2 separate regions of the Homo sapiens genome follow, and region 2 is linked to region 1. The links come from fine-mapping of genetic effects on gene expression. A gene starts in region 1. The other region holds a variant in brackets. All regions are shown on one strand. Distances are from middle to middle.

What was found. PIP is the estimated chance that this variant, and not a neighbour inherited with it, causes the effect.
Region 2: its variant is fine-mapped to the expression of SDC4 in esophagus mucosa (GTEx, PIP above 0.99).

What each region holds. Positions count from the first base shown.
Region 1 is chr20:45,344,601-45,353,952 of GRCh38, reverse strand. SDC4 (syndecan 4) reads left to right here and starts at 5,529. Exons shown (of 5, transcript NM_002999.4): 1 at 5,529-5,628. The coding sequence starts at 5,569.
Region 2 is chr20:45,315,911-45,325,262 of GRCh38, reverse strand. It overlaps RBPJL (recombination signal binding protein for immunoglobulin kappa J region like), which reads right to left. Exons shown (of 12, transcript NM_014276.4): 10 at 8,921-9,076; 11 at 8,683-8,786; 12 at 7,439-8,577. The coding sequence ends at 8,304. It also overlaps the pseudogene TRV-CAC14-1. Among named protein-coding and RNA genes, the nearest start is that of MATN4, 12 kb to the right of the region's middle. RefSeq lists an enhancer at 3,933-3,982. The variant T/C (reference allele first, on the strand shown) is at 4,535.

The DNA of each region.
Region 1 (9,352 bases):
GCTCCATGGGAGGGGGCTGCCTGTTGATGTCCTAGATCATTTCCTTTTGCTTGAAAGGAAGCTAGGGGGAGGATGTAAAGTGTTTGACCAATGCCATCTCTCAGACTCACTCAATCTCAGGTTAGAATATACAGAAAGAGTGCTGGACCCAACATAGGTGAGTATATGTTATGTGTTCACCACTTCACCTTATTCCATTCTCCTAATTAGTTCAAGAGGGAATTATCTCCATTGTAGGGAGGAGCAAAGGGACTCACAAACTTTCCTCCAGTTGGCAAGTCCTGGAAACAGGATTTTAATGAAGAACTTCTGGCTGTAAACACTGTGGGTTTTGTTTGGTTGTTTGGGTTTTTGTACCTCAGCCCCATGCAGGAAATTAGGAACTCCTATTCAGTATTACAAACCTTTGACTACTGCATTTTGTTTTTTGGAGGCCAAAGAAGAACCCAATAAAACTTCTCAAAGAATCTCAGGTTTTGGACAAATTATTTTTAACTCTTTGGGGGTCAGGATCACCCAAAAGGAGGATCCCCCAAACATCCTCTTTTTGTGGATATAAAGAAAGAATCTGAAGTTTCTTGCCCCAAAATAATGTATGCAGAGACACATAACCTAGAGGAGTACTGACCATGCATGTGTCCTCTGCCCCCAGTCATGGAGCCCAGGTTAAAGACCCATACATCCACAAATAATTATATTCAAACATGTTGCATCCCTTTAGAGATTCTCAGAACTTGGGGAAGGGGAAATTATTTCCTTAATTCCAGGAGGTTAAGATAGTTTTATAGAAGAACTTCCATTAACTCTCTAAACGAGCTGTTTTCAGTTTTTGTTTTTGTTTTTTTGCTAGTGTACTCTGTAAATGATTATTTTAAGACTAGGTACTCCTTGACATAATTTTTAGTTGATAGCTTAACATTTTTCATCAAAAGTTTAAATAGTTGCAAAGGTTGTAATTTCTGGCATATTGTAAATTTATACACGTAAAAGTAAAACAATTACATCACTCTTTTAAATGTATCCAGTTAAATTAAATGCCCTAGCAATTCGATACCTACAATCATCCATTTAAAAAATACATGAACAAGCTCTTTTCTAAGAGTCAGACATTTTGCATCATTTCTTTTTCTATTTGAAGTCAAATTTCTACTCCATGTTCCACCACAAAATTTTATCATAATGTGTTTTTTTTTAATGCGTCAGAGGCTTACTGATGACTCTTTTAAAAAGTCCTGCAATAATTTAAACAGCTTCATTAAGGTACAACTGGCATAAAATAAGCTATACATATTTAAAGTATACAATTGACATAAATATATGCTTGCTGTGTTAGGCTGTTTGCGTTACTATAAATATATGAGATTGGGTAATTTATAAAGAAAAGAGGTTTAATTGGCTTACAGTTCTGCAGGCTATACAAGCATGGCTCCAGCATTTGCTTCTGGCGAGGGGCTCAGGAAACTTCCAATCATGGCGGAAGGTAATGGGGTAGCAGACATCTCACATGGCATCATCAGGACCAAGAGACAGGGAAGGTGGAGTTCCCAGACTCTTAAACAACCAGATCCAGCGTGAACTGAGAGTGAGAATTCATTTATCACCAAGTGGATAATGCTAAACTATTCATGAGGGATCTGCCCCAGGATCCAGTCACCTCCAGGCCCCACCTCCAACATTAGGAATCACATTTCAACATGAGATTTGGAGGGGACAAACATCCAAATCACATCACTCTCTAAACCAGTCCTACAAACTTTGATAAATAATTATTAAGTAGAAAAAGTAAAGTTGTTTTAGAAATACCTGTCTTAATTAGGTGGCTGTGGCAATTTTTCTCTCCAATTAGCTCACTAAAACCTCCATGAGATTGGGTATAGTCGCTCATGCCTGTAATACCAGCACTTTGGAAGGCCGAGGCACGCGGGTCACTTGAAGTCAGGAGTTTGAGACAAGCCTGGCCAATGTGGCGAAACCCCATCTCTACTAAAAATACTAAAATTAGCTAGGCATGGTGATGTGCACCTGTAATTCCAGCTACTTGGGAGGCTGAGGCACAAGAATCACTTGAACTCAGGAGGCTAAGGTTGCAGTGAGCAGAGGTTGTGCCACTGCACTCCAGCCTGGGTGATGGAGTGAGACTTTGTCAAAAACAAACAAACAAACAAACACCTCAACGAATATTGCTAGAATGAAACAGGTTTTAGCAATAATTTTATTCCTATTTTTCATTTTTTATAGCTGTCAAACCATGGTGTGGTAAAGCCATCTTGTAGTGGTTCATGAAAGTCAATTTTTAGAAATTTTGTGGCTGGGTGCCATGTAATCCCAGCACTTTGGGAAGCTAAGTTGAGAGGACTGCTTGAGCCCAGGCCTTCAAACCCAGCCTGGGCAACATAGTAAGACTGTGTCTCTACCAAAATAATAATAATAATAATAATAATAACAATAACAATAATAATAATAATTAGCTGTGCGTGGTGGCGTATGTCTAGTCCCAACTACTCAGGAGGCTGAGGTGGGAGGATCTCGTGAGCCTGGGAGGTTGAGGCTGCAATCAGCCATAATTTTGCCACTGCACTCCAGCCTGGGCTACAGAGAGAGATCCTGTTTTTTTTTTGTTGCTTTTTTTTTTATGTCATTAGCCAGTTGTTAAACATAACTATTACTAAAAATTAATTTATATGAACATACAATTATATTAAAAAAAAAGGAGGCCGGGTACAGTTGCTCACACCTGTAATCCCAGCACTTTGAGAGGCTGAGGCGGGTAGATCACGAGGTCAGGATATCGAGACCATCCTGGCCAACATGGTGAAACCCTGTCTCTACTGAAAATACAAAAATTAGCCGGGCATGGTGGTGTGTGCCTGTAGTCCCAGCTACTCTGGAGGCTGAGGAGAATCGCTTGAACTTGGGAGGCGGAGGTTGCAGTGAGCCGAGATTGCGTCACCGCACTCCAGCCTGGGTGACAAATTGAGACTCCGTCTCAAAAAAACAAAAACAAAAACAAAACCATAAAGGAAATAAATACTCAAAACTCATCACTTACTAATTATCTCACTACACTTTACTGTTATCCATGCTTTTGAGATTATTTGCACCTATTGTATCTGTGTGGTAGAAATATATCTTCCCAGCTCCATGTTCAGTGACATCTCATTGGTAGCTTGAAATCAGCCATGCTGGTAGTATTTACACTACAGAAATTGGCAAATTAGCACTCGCCACTTCCCCTAGCCAATTGTCAAACATTTACTGGCACACCACTGGCTGTAAGTGCTGAGAAACTTATAAAAGTTGGTAGGAACAGAAGAACTCTTGTTACAACAGTGTGACAATAGATAACTAAAATCACAGTTACCTATTCTATATTTAATGATCTATCTACTGACAACTAGATTAGGCCCCCCTGCAATTTTGTGGAAAGCAAAGATTGCAAACCATTTAACTTGCAAAAGGATTTCTTATTCTGGCATGAGATTTCTTCATTTTCTCAGTTTTGTTCCAAATCCTAGGGAAGCATGTTAAAAACCACTGAAAGTCATTGCTTACCTTTAAATCTGTGGAAACCCCGTGGTCAGCATTTGAAGTTTGCTTTACTGCCAAGGTTCTCTGCCACAAGAGACTTTTATTCTTTGATAATAATTAAGAGGTGGAAAAAGGGAAGTCACTACCAATTCTCCACTCCACAAAGTATATGAATTCATAATATGCCAACAGTGGCCAAAATGTCCTACTTCTAAGGCTATGTTACACCCTTAGAAAGATTTATACATAAGTCAGGGAGAGACAGGGTTAGGCTTCTTTTGTACTTCGATCATCGTAGAATGCCCACCTTCACACCCTGCAATAATTCCAACAGTACGTGTGCTTGGGGACCCAGAGAATTTTACAGTCTCCATATAGCACCCCCCTCCACTTCTTCCCTCAACCTGCTCCCACCAATGCACTGTTAGGAGGATGAAGGGTAAGGAGGACACACAACTTTCTCTTATAAAGGGTGGAAGCTTACCCTAAGAATGGAAATAAACTTGCAGACCAGTTCTCAGAGAGATCAAACTTTTGAAAAAGTTCAAAATCTGGTAGATGAAGCCCTTAGAACAGACGTCAGCCACTCTGAGACCAGCGTCAGAGTGGTCTCAGAGTGGCTGAGGCCCACCGCCTATTTTTGTTCAGCCCACTGCTAAGAATGGTTTTTGCATTTTTATTTTTTATTTTTTTGAGACGGAGTTTTGCTCTGTTGCCCAGGCTGGAGTGCAGTGGGGAGATCTCAGTTCACTGCAACCTCCGCCCCTCGGGTTCAAACGATTCTCCTGCCTCAGCCTCCAGAGCAGTTGGGATTACAGGCGCAGGCAACCATGCCTGGATAATTTTTGTATTTTGTAGAGACGGGGTTTCAGCATGTTGGCCAGGCTGGTCTCAAACTCCTGAGCTCAAGTGATCCGCCGCCTCAGCCTCCCAAAGTGCTGGGATTACAGGCATGACTCACTGCATCCGGCCTGCATTTTTATTATAAAATGTCATTTATTTATTTATTTATTTATTTATTTATTTATTTATTTATTTTTGAGACAGGGTCTCACTCGGTCACCCAGGCTGGAGTGCAGTGAGCGATCATGGCTCACTGCAACTTTCACCTCTCTGGCTCAAGCAGTCCTCCCACCTCAGCCTCCAGAGTAGCTGGGCCACAGGGGTGCACCACAATGCCTGGTTAATTTCTTTAAAAACTTTTTGTAGAGATGGGGGTCTCATTATGGTTGCCCAGGCTGGTCTCCAATTCCTGGGCTCAAGGGATCCTCCTATTCCTCGGCCTCCCAAAGTGCTGGGATTACAGGCGTGAGCCATAGAGCCCAGCCGATTTTTGCATGTTTAAATGGTTGGGAATAAAGTCAAAAGAATAATAATATTTCGTGACACATGAAAATTATATTAAATTCAAATGTCGGTGTCTATAAATAATGTTTTATTAGGACCTAGCTGCCCTCATTCCTTTAGTATTTATGGCTGCTTTTGAGCTACGACGCTCGAGTTTGAATAGTTGCCACAGGGATCGTATGGCCCGCAAAACCTAAAATATTTAGCCCTTTACAGAATAGTTTGCTGTCCCCTGTCTTAACACGGTTCACATCCCATTTGGGAAGTTCTGTGTCTTCAGAGGGGAGCACACCCGGTATGAAGGCTGGTCTAAACTCAACACCCTAGGGAAGTCCTTCCCGTCCCTGGGCCTTAGTTTCCCCAACTATAAAATGGGGTTAGCCGCAGTGATCTCTGGGGACCTGCCTGGCAGTGGGTCAAATAAATAAAGGGAGTTGGAGCTCCCGGAGGGTAGGACTAGGGGTTGAGTAGGAGCCGGCGGGCTCGGGCAGGGCGGGTCCCTTGGGGTTTCCAACTCCGCGGGCGGGCGCAGTGCCCCGCAGGCCTCGCTTCCACTGGGGAATTCCGGGCGGGGTGCGGGCGGCGGGGCGGGGGCGGGCCGGGGCGGGGCCGGTAGGCCGCCTATAAGATGGGTGGCGCGCCCGCCCGGGGCCACTCGCCGCAGCCTGCGCGCCTTCTCCAGTCCGCGGTGCCATGGCCCCCGCCCGTCTGTTCGCGCTGCTGCTGTTCTTCGTAGGCGGAGTCGCCGAGTCGGTGGGTGCTTGGAGGTTCCCGGGCTGGGGGCGAAGCGGGGGCGCAGGCCGGTGCCTCCTTTGTTCGTCGGAGCGTGGGATGGGGGGGGGCAGATCGGGGGTACGCTACCCCCAACCGGACACCGAGGCCCGGGAAACTTTGTTGGAAACTTTGCTCCGGGGTCACGGGCCAGCCTCCGGGATGGCTTCACGCGCCGTGCGCCCCTCGCCTGTTGCTCTTCCCGCCTCCCCGGGCCTCAGCCCCGCCGCGGGCTACGGGCTCGTTAGTGACTAAGCCGGTGTCAACTCTTCAACTCCCACACCCTCGTCCCTTCCCTGGTGACCCTGGGGCAGGCTTGGAGCGCTGAATCCCCTCCTCGCTCTCGGGGCGCCCAGAGCAGACAGCTTTAGGATCCGAGATGGCCCTGGGGGTCGGGGGGCTGCGTGTACTCGGAAGGGGGAGGGTTTTAGGGTTGTGCGAGGCCCTCTTTCACACACCAAGGAGAACTGAGCCCTAACCTCAGTTCTGGCCCCAGCTCTGTCATTGACTTGTGACTTAGGGCAAAGTCCTGCCCTTCTGAATCTCTTCCCAATACTGCACCAAGGGTCTGAGGGAATGGGGCAAGAGGGGACACTGCGTTAGGGTTTCTAGAAAGTTGGGGACTCTGCTCTTTTCGAGGACAGAGGAGAGGAATGGTTTAGACTCAACACTTAGCCAGGAGCTGAGCCTCTGCTTTCTGCAAGAAGTGTGTTCATTTTTTCTCAATTGCAGATAAGAAAATTGAAGCATCCACCTTGAGTGAGGTGAAGGGGGTAGGGGGGAGAGAAGGCCTCAATCAGCCCAGGGAAACCTTTCCTTCTCACTGTCCACTGGCCTCCGTCATAGCTGTCCCTGGGCCAGCAGAAGCTCTATCCATGCCCGCAGCCGGCTTAGGAGGAGGGGGGCAATCTCATCTGGGAAGTTGGGGGGCATGGGAATTACTGGTGAAGGCAATCTGTCCCCCACAGCCTGAGCTTTGTGCCCCCTTTGTGCCCTTTAGCCCCAGTTTTCAGAGCGAGTGAGTCCTTGCAGTTTAACCATTAATGTTAATTTCTTTGAAAGCCTTGGGGCTCCTGTTCCTCTGAATTTACTTAGCGGAAGGTTGATTCTGCCTGCAGGCTCTTCTTGAGGAATGAATGAGACCCTAGGCAATACTTCCAGCACAATTCCAGGCATGCCATGATGATTGCAAACGTGGAGCGCCTTTGTCGGGGGGCCAGACATTGCTCTAATAACTTTCTAATGGGTATATCCAGGAGCTTAATTCCAACAACAATCTTACTGTGTACTGTTCTTAAACTGGTCCTGAGGCTAGAGAGGTTAAGTAACTTGCCCAGGGTCACACAGTTAATACACAATAAATGGGTGAGTCAGATTGAAATTTAGGCAGCCAGGCTTTCAAGTTTCTGCTTTAGCTTAACTTCTACTCTTTGTGCTACTCCAGGTGTCCCATCGTTGGTAACTAAAGACGGGTTTAGAATAGGTTGAGATTTTAGGCTGGAAGGCAAAGGAATTCTGAGGTGGAAGGAAACAAGGCCAGAGTGAGGTGATGACTTAACCTAAACCAAAGGCTACCTTGCCTAAAATGTTAGTGGCTGAGGACCCAAGCCTTCTGCCTCTAGCACAGTGCTCTAAACTAGGCCCTGAAGGATGTGTCGGGTCAAGCAACTGGGGAAGCATCCGAAGGGATACCACCTAGGCAGTACAGGGAAAAAGAGGAAAGGACCCAGGAGGTTGCTGAGGTCACCGTGTGCCCAGTCACATGCCAGTTTCCTCCCAGGGGCTGCTGAGCCTTCAGGTGCTTCAGGGTGCTGAGCAGTCAGCTGTGTCCTGGGGGCATTCTGAAGGATGTAGTTTGGGGGAAGGGGACTGTGTCAGTCCTGCCTGGGTGACCCATCAGCTGCAGGAGACATCAGCCCTGGGCAGCTGCTTCCTGAGATAGGTGTCAAGTCTCATCCTGACCTCAGCTCTCCCCTTCCTGGCTAATGTCACAGACCTCCTGCCTGTAACTGGGGCACAGGGCTTCCCCTTTGGCCTGTCCCCTCCCTCTTTTCTAGATTGTGGTTGGAAAAATCAGACATAGTCACGGTTGGCTCGGACTGAAGAGATGATCCAGCGTGTCCTTTTCTTTTTGCAGGTAGAGAAAAGTGAGGCCCAGGGAGAAGGACTTTGCTAATAGCAGTTAGGAGTGATAGAGTACTTTTTATATGACAGATCTGGTGCATTTTGTCCTCACAAAAAGACCTGTCACATGGGGATTCTATTATGCCCACTTCCCAAATGTGAGAGGTAAAATGGTACTACTTTGGGTTAGTAGAGGGCATCCAGGACCCCAGGATCTCTGACTAGTAGCCCTCCCATTGTGGGTGGTGTTCCCCCGACTGTTCCATCATTCCCCTTACCACCCCCATATTTTGGAAGGGAACCCAGGCTCAGTACCCAGCTGTCCTCTCCTCTGTTTGGCTGGGCTTGCTATACTAAACCAGTTCTTCCTGTCCAGCTGGGAGCATTCCCTGATCTGCCTTCCTGCCACTCCCTCTCAGGCCAATTAAAGGCAGCCTTGTTTTGGGAGTCCCCTCCACCCAAAGGTGTTCCTACCCAGGGGCACAGCCTACTGACTTGGCCCCGGGCCCAGGCGGTTGTGGGGAAGTGTCCCCCACCTATCACCTATCAAGTGTACTTTAGCTTAAGGACATTTCTGGTCTTCTACAGCGTCCTCTTCTTGATTACATGGGAGTAGGGGTGGGGGCGGAAGCCTAGGGGCTTCTAGGACCCTTGAGTGAACAGTGAGAGCTCTTGGGACTTCTTGAGCCCAGGGAGTTATCAAACACCCACGAAAATATTTGGGCCATGATTTGGAGGGTTCCATGAGGTTGGGGGGAGGCCTCTTTCCCCGCTGGGCTGACATCCCCCACCTTAAAATGAAAGGTTTGAACAGGGTAGCCTCCAGAGTCCTTTCCATCTCTCAATTTGATTAATAACTTAAGTACCTACTATTCAAAAGAGGTCTCTCTCTTGAAGGAATTAACTTGAGGGAATTAACATACTCCACCAAATGCTGAATCCCTCCCTCTCTCCCCCCGCACACTGAGGGCAGGAACTCTGCTCTATTTGTTTTTGTGAAATACCTGTCCCCTAGTTTGTACTCAGGAAATGCTTGTATGAATGAATAAATTCGTGCATGTAACTTTATTCTAAATGGTTCATTACTGTTATTTATTGCTAGTATGAGTATCTCCCAGTACTGCGAGGTACCATTTTCTCTATTTTTACAGGAAATTGATGCTCGGAACAATGCAGTGGCTTCCTAAGGTCAGAACCAGGTCCTTCTGATAGGGCAAGGTGTCTGGTTTGAGTGTCCTCAGAATATTCCAGATGAGGAAATTTGCTGGGTTTGAAGGTAGATACCTTAGGTCCTACTTCTGCGTTGCTGGGTGACCTTGAGCAAACATGCCCTGTCTCTGGGTCTCAGTGTCCCCAACTCTAAAATAAGGAGGCTGGACCATTGCCTTCCAAGGGTCCTTCCTGCCCAGAGAGCCCATTGATGAGGGGAGGGGCCCTTTGCTGGCCTCCTTGGTGAAGAGTCTAAACAAATCCCAGTCTCAGAAGAGAAGTTGGGGTGGCGGGGGGACATTCAGCTCCTGCCATCCCCAGCTCCTAGAAACAGAGGGCTTTTCCAAGGACTTGGAGTGCTGAGCCTGCCTGA
Region 2 (9,352 bases), 29 kb after region 1:
ATAACAAGTCATCCTTTTTGGGCTCTGTATCCCCTTGATCTCAGTGGAGCATGAAGAAACTCCCCGGACCAAATCCCCTACGGGGTGCCAGACATGCCGGGGGTGGGCAGAGGGTGGGGGCAGAGAGGTAAGAAGGCAGGAAGGGGCCTAGAGAAGAGGGAAGACTTCAGAACATGCACCCTGATGGCCTATGCAGCATATCACCCCTACTTCAAGGTTTTGTTTAGGTGGCACTGTGTTTAAATAGCAAACACAAAAATCTTTGCGTCAGTTGCCATCCATAGAAATCAGGAGGTTTCTCATAAAAATCCAGATTTCTCACTTTTCTTGGGAAAAAGAAATAAAAAAAATTGGCAACTGTCAGCCTGCATGGCAACAAGAGAGCTGCTGAGCGGCAGGCACCCATCTAGATGTGGGCTCTCCGCACCACTGTCTCCGCCTGCTTCACTCAGGCCACTGCTGCAGCCAGGCTGGCTGGCAGTCTCCGGAAATAGCATGGGCCATCTTTCTTGACCACTATAACAACCCTGTGAGGTGGGTAAGATCCTTGTTACCAAGAGGGCAACCTGCCCCTAGTGTGTCTGGAGAGTCGAACCTTAATTTCAGGTCCTTGGACATTGGTGATCTTCCTTTGGCACCATGTTGCCCAGTACTTTGCTGGGGTTGGGGAAAGGACGCAAACAGGAATTGGTGGTAGTTGGAGCAAACCCTCCCATACACACCATGTGGCCAGGAACCCATTCTTAGGGCTTTATACCAGATCCCATTTAATTGTCAGATCTCCACAGAGTAGGTGCTATTAGTAACCCCATTTGACAGATAGGGAAACTGCATCTAAGAGGTTAAATACCTTGCTCAAAGCTACACAGCTTACCAGTTGTAGAGGTGAGATTTGAACCCCGGCAGTCGGGCTCTAGAGTGCTAACAACTGCACTGCCTATCAAGGGGTTTATATCACCCAAGGCTCCCTCACTGGGGGCTGTTCATGCCCCTGCAAACCCCCTCTGAACCAGTGATTCTGGTCTTAAATCTCGTGGCAGCTTAAATCTCTCCTGAGACTTTGCCACACTGTTTTTCTGAGTCCCATGAGGTTGAGTGGGTCTCTGTTCTCCTAACTTGTGTCTTGTAGAAGGCCCTCACATCTGTTAGATCTGTGCTGACCACTATGGTAGCCACTGGGAACTGTGGCTATATTATAAATTTAAATTAATTATAATTGTAAAAATAAAAATTCTGCTTCTTAGTTGCACTAGCCTTGTTTTAAGTGCTCAACAGCCACATGTGGCTAGTGGCTACTGTATCAGGTGGTGCAGACACAGAACATTTCCAGTTGTAGAAATTCCTGTTAGGGCTGCTTTGGATGGTGTGAGACTGAGTCAGGACCTCTGGGTTTGGGTTTCAGCTTTTACCAGCTGTTACCTTGTGATCCAACAGCCTATAGGGAGGCAAGTCAGAGCTTAGCACACAATAAGTGCTCAATATATGGTGTTCTCATCATCAGTGCCATCTTTTTGGGTAAAGTATTAGTTTAAGAAGACCCCCCCAGGAGATTGAGACGATCCTGGCTAACACGGTGAAACTCCATCTCTACTAAAAGTACAAAAAAAATTAGCCGGGCGTGGCGGCGGGTGTCTGTAGTCCCAGCTACTCGGGAGGCTGAGGCAGGAGAATGGCGTGAAGCGGGGAGGCGGAGCTTGCAGTGAGCCGAGATCGTGCCACTGCACTCCAACCTGGGCGACAGAGCGAGACTCCATCTCAAAAAGAAAAAAAAAAAAAGAAGACCCCCATATTATCTATTGATATTTAAAATTACCCCCAAACTTAGGGGCTTATAACAACATAAATATTATCTCACATTGTTTCTGTGAGTCAGAAGTCAGGAGCATTAGCTGGGCGATTCTGGCTCCATCTTGTGAGGTTGCAGTCGACGTTGGCCAGGTCTTGCTGTCATCTGAAAGCTTGACTGGGCTGGAGGATCCACTTCCAAGATGGCTCAGTTACATTTCTGACAACTTGGTGCTGGCTATTTTGGCAGGAGGCCTCAGTTCCTCATTGCGTGGACCCACATAGAGCTGATTGACAGTCCTCGTGATGCGGCAGCTGGTTTCTCTCAGAACAAGCGATCCAAGAGAGCCACCAAGTGGAAGCTACAGTGACTTTTATGACTTAGCTTGGAAGTCACCCACTATCTCTTCCATAATATTGCATGGGTCACATGGGTCAGCCCTATTCATTGTGACAGGAGACCACCCAGGGGCAGGAGCACCTGGATACAAGACTCATTGGAAGCCATCCTAAATGCTGGCAGACATAGCCCCATCAGTGGTCAACCTCGACTAGGGCTTTATCTGTCTGGAGAGCCAACTCTGGTTATTTCTGATAATATATAATATTTCTGAGAATTGGGCAGTGGATGCAAAATGGATTTTGGACACTATTGGTCCACTTTTTGTTTTTTAATTTTTTGAGGTGGAGTCTCACTCTGTCGCCCAGGCTGGAGTGCCATGGTATGATCTCAGCTCACTGCTATCTCTGCCTCCCAGGTTCAAGTGATTCTCCTGCCTCAGCCTCCCAAGTAGCTGAGATTACAGGCATGTGCCACAATGCCTGGCTAATTTTTGTATTTTTAGTAGAGACAGGGTTTCACCATGTTGTCCAGGCTGGTCTCAAACTCCTGATCTCATGCGATCCGCCCACCTCGGCCTCCCAAAGTGTTGGGATTACAGGCATGAGCCACCACACCCGGCCAAAATGTAGGCACAGGTTTAACTAGTTTTCTGTTTGTTTCCAACCTCGATTAAACTCACTAAATTTAGGGGGAAAATCTCGTGTTTTGGCCCGGTCTCAAACTGGTGACCTTTCATGTGTGAGGCGAATGTGATAACCACTACATTACAGAAGCCAGGCATGGGCCCACTTTTTGTTCATGATCTTGCCAATCTTCAGAGGTAGCAAAACCATGGGACAATGCCTGCATGGGGTGTGGGAAGGCCTACAAGTGAAACACATCTCCCCTACTTATGATTTGCTATGTTGTTTGGGGAGTAGACAGAATTCTAAGATGGCCTGCAAGATTTCTGCCCTATATATACAACCTGTATAATTCTCTCTCCTTGAGGACCTGTAAATATGATGGGATGCCACAAGGTTTATGATTAGTTTACATTAGATAGCAAAGGTGAAAGTGCCCATCTGGTGGCAAGCAGCCAGCTGTAGTGGGGGTTTATCACTTTGCCCTCTAAATGCATTATTGTGCCACTGCTACCCTGCCTGCCTTTGTCCCTTAGGGTCTGGAACAGGGCCAAGCCTGTCTAGGAGGCTGTTCTGAGCTGGTCTGTGGCAAAACCTTATAGATGGTTTTGTTTGTTTGTTTTTCTTTTTTTAGACAGTCTCGCTCTGTTGCCCAGGCTGGAGTGCAGTGGCACAATCTCGGCTCACTGCAACCTCTGCCTCCTAGGTGCAAGCGATTCTTGTGCCTCAGCCACCCAAGTAGCTGGGACTACAGGTGCACGCCACCACGTCTGGCTACATTTTGTATTTTTTATTTTTTGAGACAGAGTCTTGTTGTCACCCAAGCTGGAGTGCAGTGGCGTGATCTCAGCTCACTGCAACTTTCGCCTCCTGGGTTCAAGCGATTCTTCTGTCCCAGTCTCCCAAGTAGCTGGGATTACAGGTGTGAGCCACCGTGCCCAGCCTATTTTTGTATTTTTAGTAGAGACGGGGTTTTACCATGTTGGCCAGGCTGGTCTGGAACTCCTGACCTCAAGTGATCTGAAGTGATCTGCCTGGCTCGGCCTCCCAAAGTGCTAGGATTACAAGTGTGAGCCACCATGCCTGGCCACAACCTTATAGATGTATTATGGGTTTCACTTCCCTTAAAACCACTTCCTCTTTCCCTTGCCATCTTCACAGGTCTGTGCCCTACCCAGGGGGAAGCTGTCAGAGAATTTTACCTATGCTGTGGTTATAACTTAATAGAAGTTAAAAAAAAAAAAGAAAGAAAGAAAGAGAGAGAAACCCCAAGGTCGGTACTTACTGGGGAACTAGCTTGTTAATAATGGTGGAACACCAGGCAGCATGAGAGCTGGTAAATTGGAGATTTGGGCCTTATCCTCACTACATGCCCCATCCCCACCCTCTGCAACACACATGTCACCTACACACAGCAGCGTGGTAGAATGAGAATGAAGAGAAACTCAGAGCCCCAGATTTAGTGGTAGGAGTGCAGGATTTGAATCAATTGTAGGCTTTGCCATCTGCTGTGACCTTAGCCTCCTCTCTTGGAGCCTCAGTTTCCCCATCTATAAAATGAGGAGGAAATACTGACTAGGGCCATGATTCTTAACCCTGGCTGCTCACTAGATTCACATGGGAGGGTTTCAAACAATACAGATGCCTGAGCTCCACACTCAGAGATGTTAATAGAATTGTTCCATGGCGTGGCCGGTATATTATTAGTATTATTTTTTTTTTTGAGACGGAGTTTCACTCTGCTGGAGAGACCCTAGGCTGGAGTGCAGTGGCGTGATCTCAG[T/C]TCGCTGCAGCCTCTGCCTCCTGGGTTCAAGCAATTCTCCTGCCTCAGCCTCCTGAGTAGCTGGGATTACAGGCACACGCCACCACGCCTGGCTAATGTTTTGAATTTTTAGTAGAGACAGGGTTTCACCATGTTGGCCAGGCTGGTCTCAAACTCCTGACCTCAGGTGATCCACCCACCTCGACCTCCCAAAGTGCTGGGATTACAGGCGTGAGCCACTGCGCCCGGCCCGGTATATTAATTTTTATAGCGTGGCAAATGATTCTAATATAAAGAGGACTAAATTAATCCATAAATGGGTTTTAGTGTTAGGAAATTCCCTGGAAGTATGTAGAATTCTGTGCATAAACCCCCAAAGGGTCTCCCTCTGTCACCCAGGCTGGAGTGTAGTGGCACAATCACAGCTCACTGCAGCTTCCACTACCTGTGCTCCAGTGATCCTCCCTCCTCAGCATCCCCCCGCCCCCACCCCATAGCTGGGACTACAGGCGTGCACCACCACACCGGCTAATTATTATTATTATTTTTTTATTTTTTTGAGACGGAGTCTCACTCTGTCCCCCAGGCTGGAGTGCAGTGGCACGATCTCGGCTCACTGCAAGCTCCGCCTCCCGGGTTCACGCCATTCTCCTGCCTCAGCCTCCCAAGTAGCTGGGACTACAGTCGCCCGCCACCACGCCTGGCTAATTTTTTGTATTTTTTGGTAGAGACGGGGTTTCACCGGGTTAGCCAGGTTGGTCTCTTATCTCCTGACCTCGTGATCCGCCCGCCTCGGCCTCCCAAAGTGCTGGGATTACAGGCGTGAGCCACTGCGCCCGGCCCTATTTTTACATTTTTTTGTAGAGATGGGGGAGGGGGTCTTGTTATGTTGCCCAGGGTGGTCTCGAACTCCTGGGCTTAAGTGATCCTTGCGCCTCGGCCTACCAAAGGGCTGGGATTAAGGCCCGGTTTTTAAATATAAATAAAATGAGAACTTAATGCTCGGGTGGAGAACAGTGCCACCTGCCGGTTTCACTTTGCATTAGCAATATCTAAATATCTGCCAATGCCATATAATGCAATTCACTGTTTATTGAGCACCAACTCAACATGCGAGGCATTGTGATGCACCCTTTAGGACATGCAGAGATAAGAGCTCCTTTCCCCATGAAGATGGCAGCCTAGAGGAGACAATGGGCATGTAGGTAAAACCTTTGATCCAAAGCAGGCAGTCGATATGGTCCCATTGAGGGTCTGTGGGAATACAAGAAAAAAGCCTGGGGCCAGGGCTGGCTTCGTGGTTGTGCAGCCTGTGCTTGGAAGGCCCCTGCACTTGGTTTCATCATTTCCTGTGGCTGTCTTGAAGTTCTTTTTTTTTTTTTAATCCCGTGTTCAGTCGAATTGAAATTCTTGAATAATTTTTGAACAACGGGCCATTTTGCACTGGGGCCCACAAATTATATAGCTAGTTCTACCTAGAGTAGTTTGGGAAATTTTGGAAGAGGCGACACAGGACCTGGCAGGGCAGTAGTGGAGGGAGAGGAAAACAGGAGGCATATGGTAGTGTGGAAGTGGGGGTGGGATCCTTAGGCCTGGGTGACTGGGTGGTGTGGGGGAAGGAGCTAGAGGTGGTGCTGCAAGGCAGGTGGAGAGGGAAAGGAGTTTGATGTTAGATGGCTTCAGACTCAGTGCAAGGAAGACCTCCAAGGACAGTTTCAGCAGCTGGAACTCAGAAGCTAGGCCAGGGCTGGAGCTTTGGTCACAGACTTCCAGATGGATACCTTGGGGACACCAAAGGTTATAGGATCCCCTGAGATGGGTGAGGACTAAGACAGAGCTGTATGGCTGGGTCTGGGCTTTTGGTCCAACCTAGATTATTGGCTTCTGGGACTCCTGCCTTGAGGAGTGGTGGAGGAAGACTTTGGGGGCAGGGCTGGACGATGAGCGCTTGAGCCCCAATTCCCCATGTGGTGCGCTATGACACTCTTCTCAGCCTCCTCCCTCCTGGCTGCCTGCTTCAACACCACCATGGACGGTGAGTCAGGCGCTCATTTCAGGGACATTTCCCATTCAACTCATTTGCTGCCTTCCTCAGCCAAGATTCACCTTCAGGGGCCACAGGCTTCTTCCTCACCCCTCACAGTGGGTTGCAGCCTGCTGATGGCAGATGGCAGAACTTAGTCAAGACTTTGGGAAGGCTAAAGAACATACCCCATTTCCTCTCCTCTGCGTATTGTTCGTTTCTTTTTTCTCATGGGACTTTCCATACCCTGGGGGAGGAGTTTTACAAGAAATGAGCTCTTCCTTAGGAGGGCAAGCTCTTCTCCAGAGGGTTAGAACCTAGAACCCACATTTCAGACCAGTTTTCCCATCAGGCACCACCAGAGGCTGGTGCAGGTAGCTGGCACCCATGATACTTATCTGTGTCCTTGATTCCAATAGCCCAAGCCAGTGTTCTGCCTGGTTTTTTTTTCCTTCCCTATAAAGCACAGACTGGGTAGAGTGGTACCTAGGGTGGGTAGGCTGGTGGGGAATAGATTGTGATTCTGTCCATCAGCCCCATGCAGAGAGGCCCCCCTCTCAACTACATTACTGCCCAGTCAATCCCAGGAGTTCTGCCCAGGGCTATCCTGGGAAAGCTTTGTTTTGAAAGGGTCCCGTGGTCACCTCTGGGCCTGGGGTGCACCCTTGCTTGGGATGGAGAGATAGCTAGTAGGGTAACAACCCCAGGGCAGGGACAGGGACTCAGGATGCCAGCTGCCTCTGCACCCTGTTCCTCCTCTAGAAAACGTCCAAAAGGTAGGCTCTCTGCTCCATCAGACTTGTGGTTCTTTTCTTTCTGTGCAGGTCCCCTCTTTTGTGTGTTGGTGCGAGGGTTGGGGGAGGCACACTTGGGGAGGTGGCTCATACAGACCAAACTCTGCCTTGGATAGGATTGATTTTAATGCAGCTGTAGAATCCCTGATCCTCAGGACTGCGTCCTGCTGGGCCTGTGGGAGAAGTGACTGGGGGGGACAGTTAAGGCGGCAAGACCTCATCACTGTCCAGGCACCTGCCCAGCCACCAAATCTGTGGACCAGGGAGCAAACACAGGCAAAGGTACTATGCCTGGCTGCAGTCAGAGAGAGTCTCGGGAGGAGCAGGTCTTTGTGCTCTAGGGCAGGACACAGTGCTCTAGGTGGGAACTGGTGCCCCAGGTGGGACCGAATTCCCCAGGTGAGACTTAGAGAGACCCGGTGCTCCAGGTGGATCTAATATTCCAGGAAGGACCTGGTGCTCCAGGGTCCTGATGCCCCAAGAGCTTGCCCCCTATGCCTGGATGTGTGAAGCTGTGTGTTTTCTCTTCAAGAGGGGACACAGATGCCTGGAGGGTAAATGTCCCAAACTTGGCTCCTCGGGGCATGTAAAATTGTGTGTGAGAGGCAGGGAGAGCTGAAGAGAGAAAAGGACAGAAGGATAGGGACACGCACATAGGTCTGTAGACTAAGTACTGAGGGGGAAGGGAGAGAGAGAGAGGTTTAGAGACAGAGTGAGAAGAAATGAAGACAGGGAGAGCCATACACGACGGACACAAAGACAGCACCACTCAGGTCTTGTCTTCCTGTATGTGTAAGGACAAGGGAGGGAGTGAGCCGGGTAAGACCCACCAGGCCCGGTTTCTAGGGTGAGCCTTCAGCTGCCCTTCTGCAGCAAAGGGGCAAGGAAGCAGGGCCTAGAACCCAGAAACACGTCCCCGCGCCTGGCGCGGGCGCAGCCCTCCAGGGTGGGCAGCCGGGGCTACCGGGCGCGCCTAAGTCTGGATGAAGAGGTGGAAGTTGGTGCGCGTGAACTCCTGATGGATGCTCTCCAGGAGCGCGTCGGCGTCGGTGGCGGGCTCGGGGACGCCGGGGTGACCCGGCCGCACGCTGTATTCCGGGGTGTAGGTGAAGGAGAAGGCACTAGGGTAGAAGAGCCCGTCGGCGCGCACCAGGCTCATGGGGATTGTGATGGGAGCGCGCAGCCAGCGCCAGTCGCTGCAGAAGGCCGCCACGTCCGGCACCACGCACACCAGGGACCGCGGGCTCCTGGGGGTGGAGCACCAGGGTGAGGGCTGCGGCGACTCCGACGACGCGTGCACCCCCTTCCCCTGCTCCCCGGGGCCCAAGAGAGGCTGCCTCACCACCCCGTACCTGTACATGGTTTCTGCCTCCACGTCCCCAAACCACACCTTGAGCCCCGCGTGGAAGTTCTCTCCGTGGAGCTCCAGCGTGGCCACGTCGCCCCCGCCGCTCAGCTGGGGGAGGGTGGGACCAGGTGAGGTGAGAGAACCAAGTAGGGCGGGAACCCGCTGCCCCCCACTCACTAGCACCACCACTGCCCAGTGCAGGCAGGGTCCCCCTGCCCAACGCCCCTAGCGCCCGGCTTCACCTCTAGGGTGCTGATGAGAGGCACCGGAGTGACCGGCTCCAGGGTACACGCCAGGCTGGTGCTGAAGGAAAATTCCACCGACTCGGTGCCGATGATGGTCCAGCAAGAGCTGTCGTTAAGCAGAGCCCTGTTCGCCTCCTTGGGGCAGGGAGAGGCCTGGGAGGAGACCCAAGGGGACGAGGCCGAAGCTTCTCATGGTGGCCACCAGTGTAGGGAGCCAGCATGGCGCGTGGGCTTCTGCGTTAGACCGAACTGGATACTAATCCTAGGCTCTGGGGTTCACTTGTCCCCTCAGCTTGGACAGTGCCCTTAAGTTCTCTCACTTAGCGTTAAGAAAGCTTGTTGAGCTAGCTGATTTCTTCTTTCTTCTTTCTTCTTTCTTTTTTCTTTATTTTCCTTCCTTCCTTCCTTTTCTTTTTCTTTCCCTTTCTC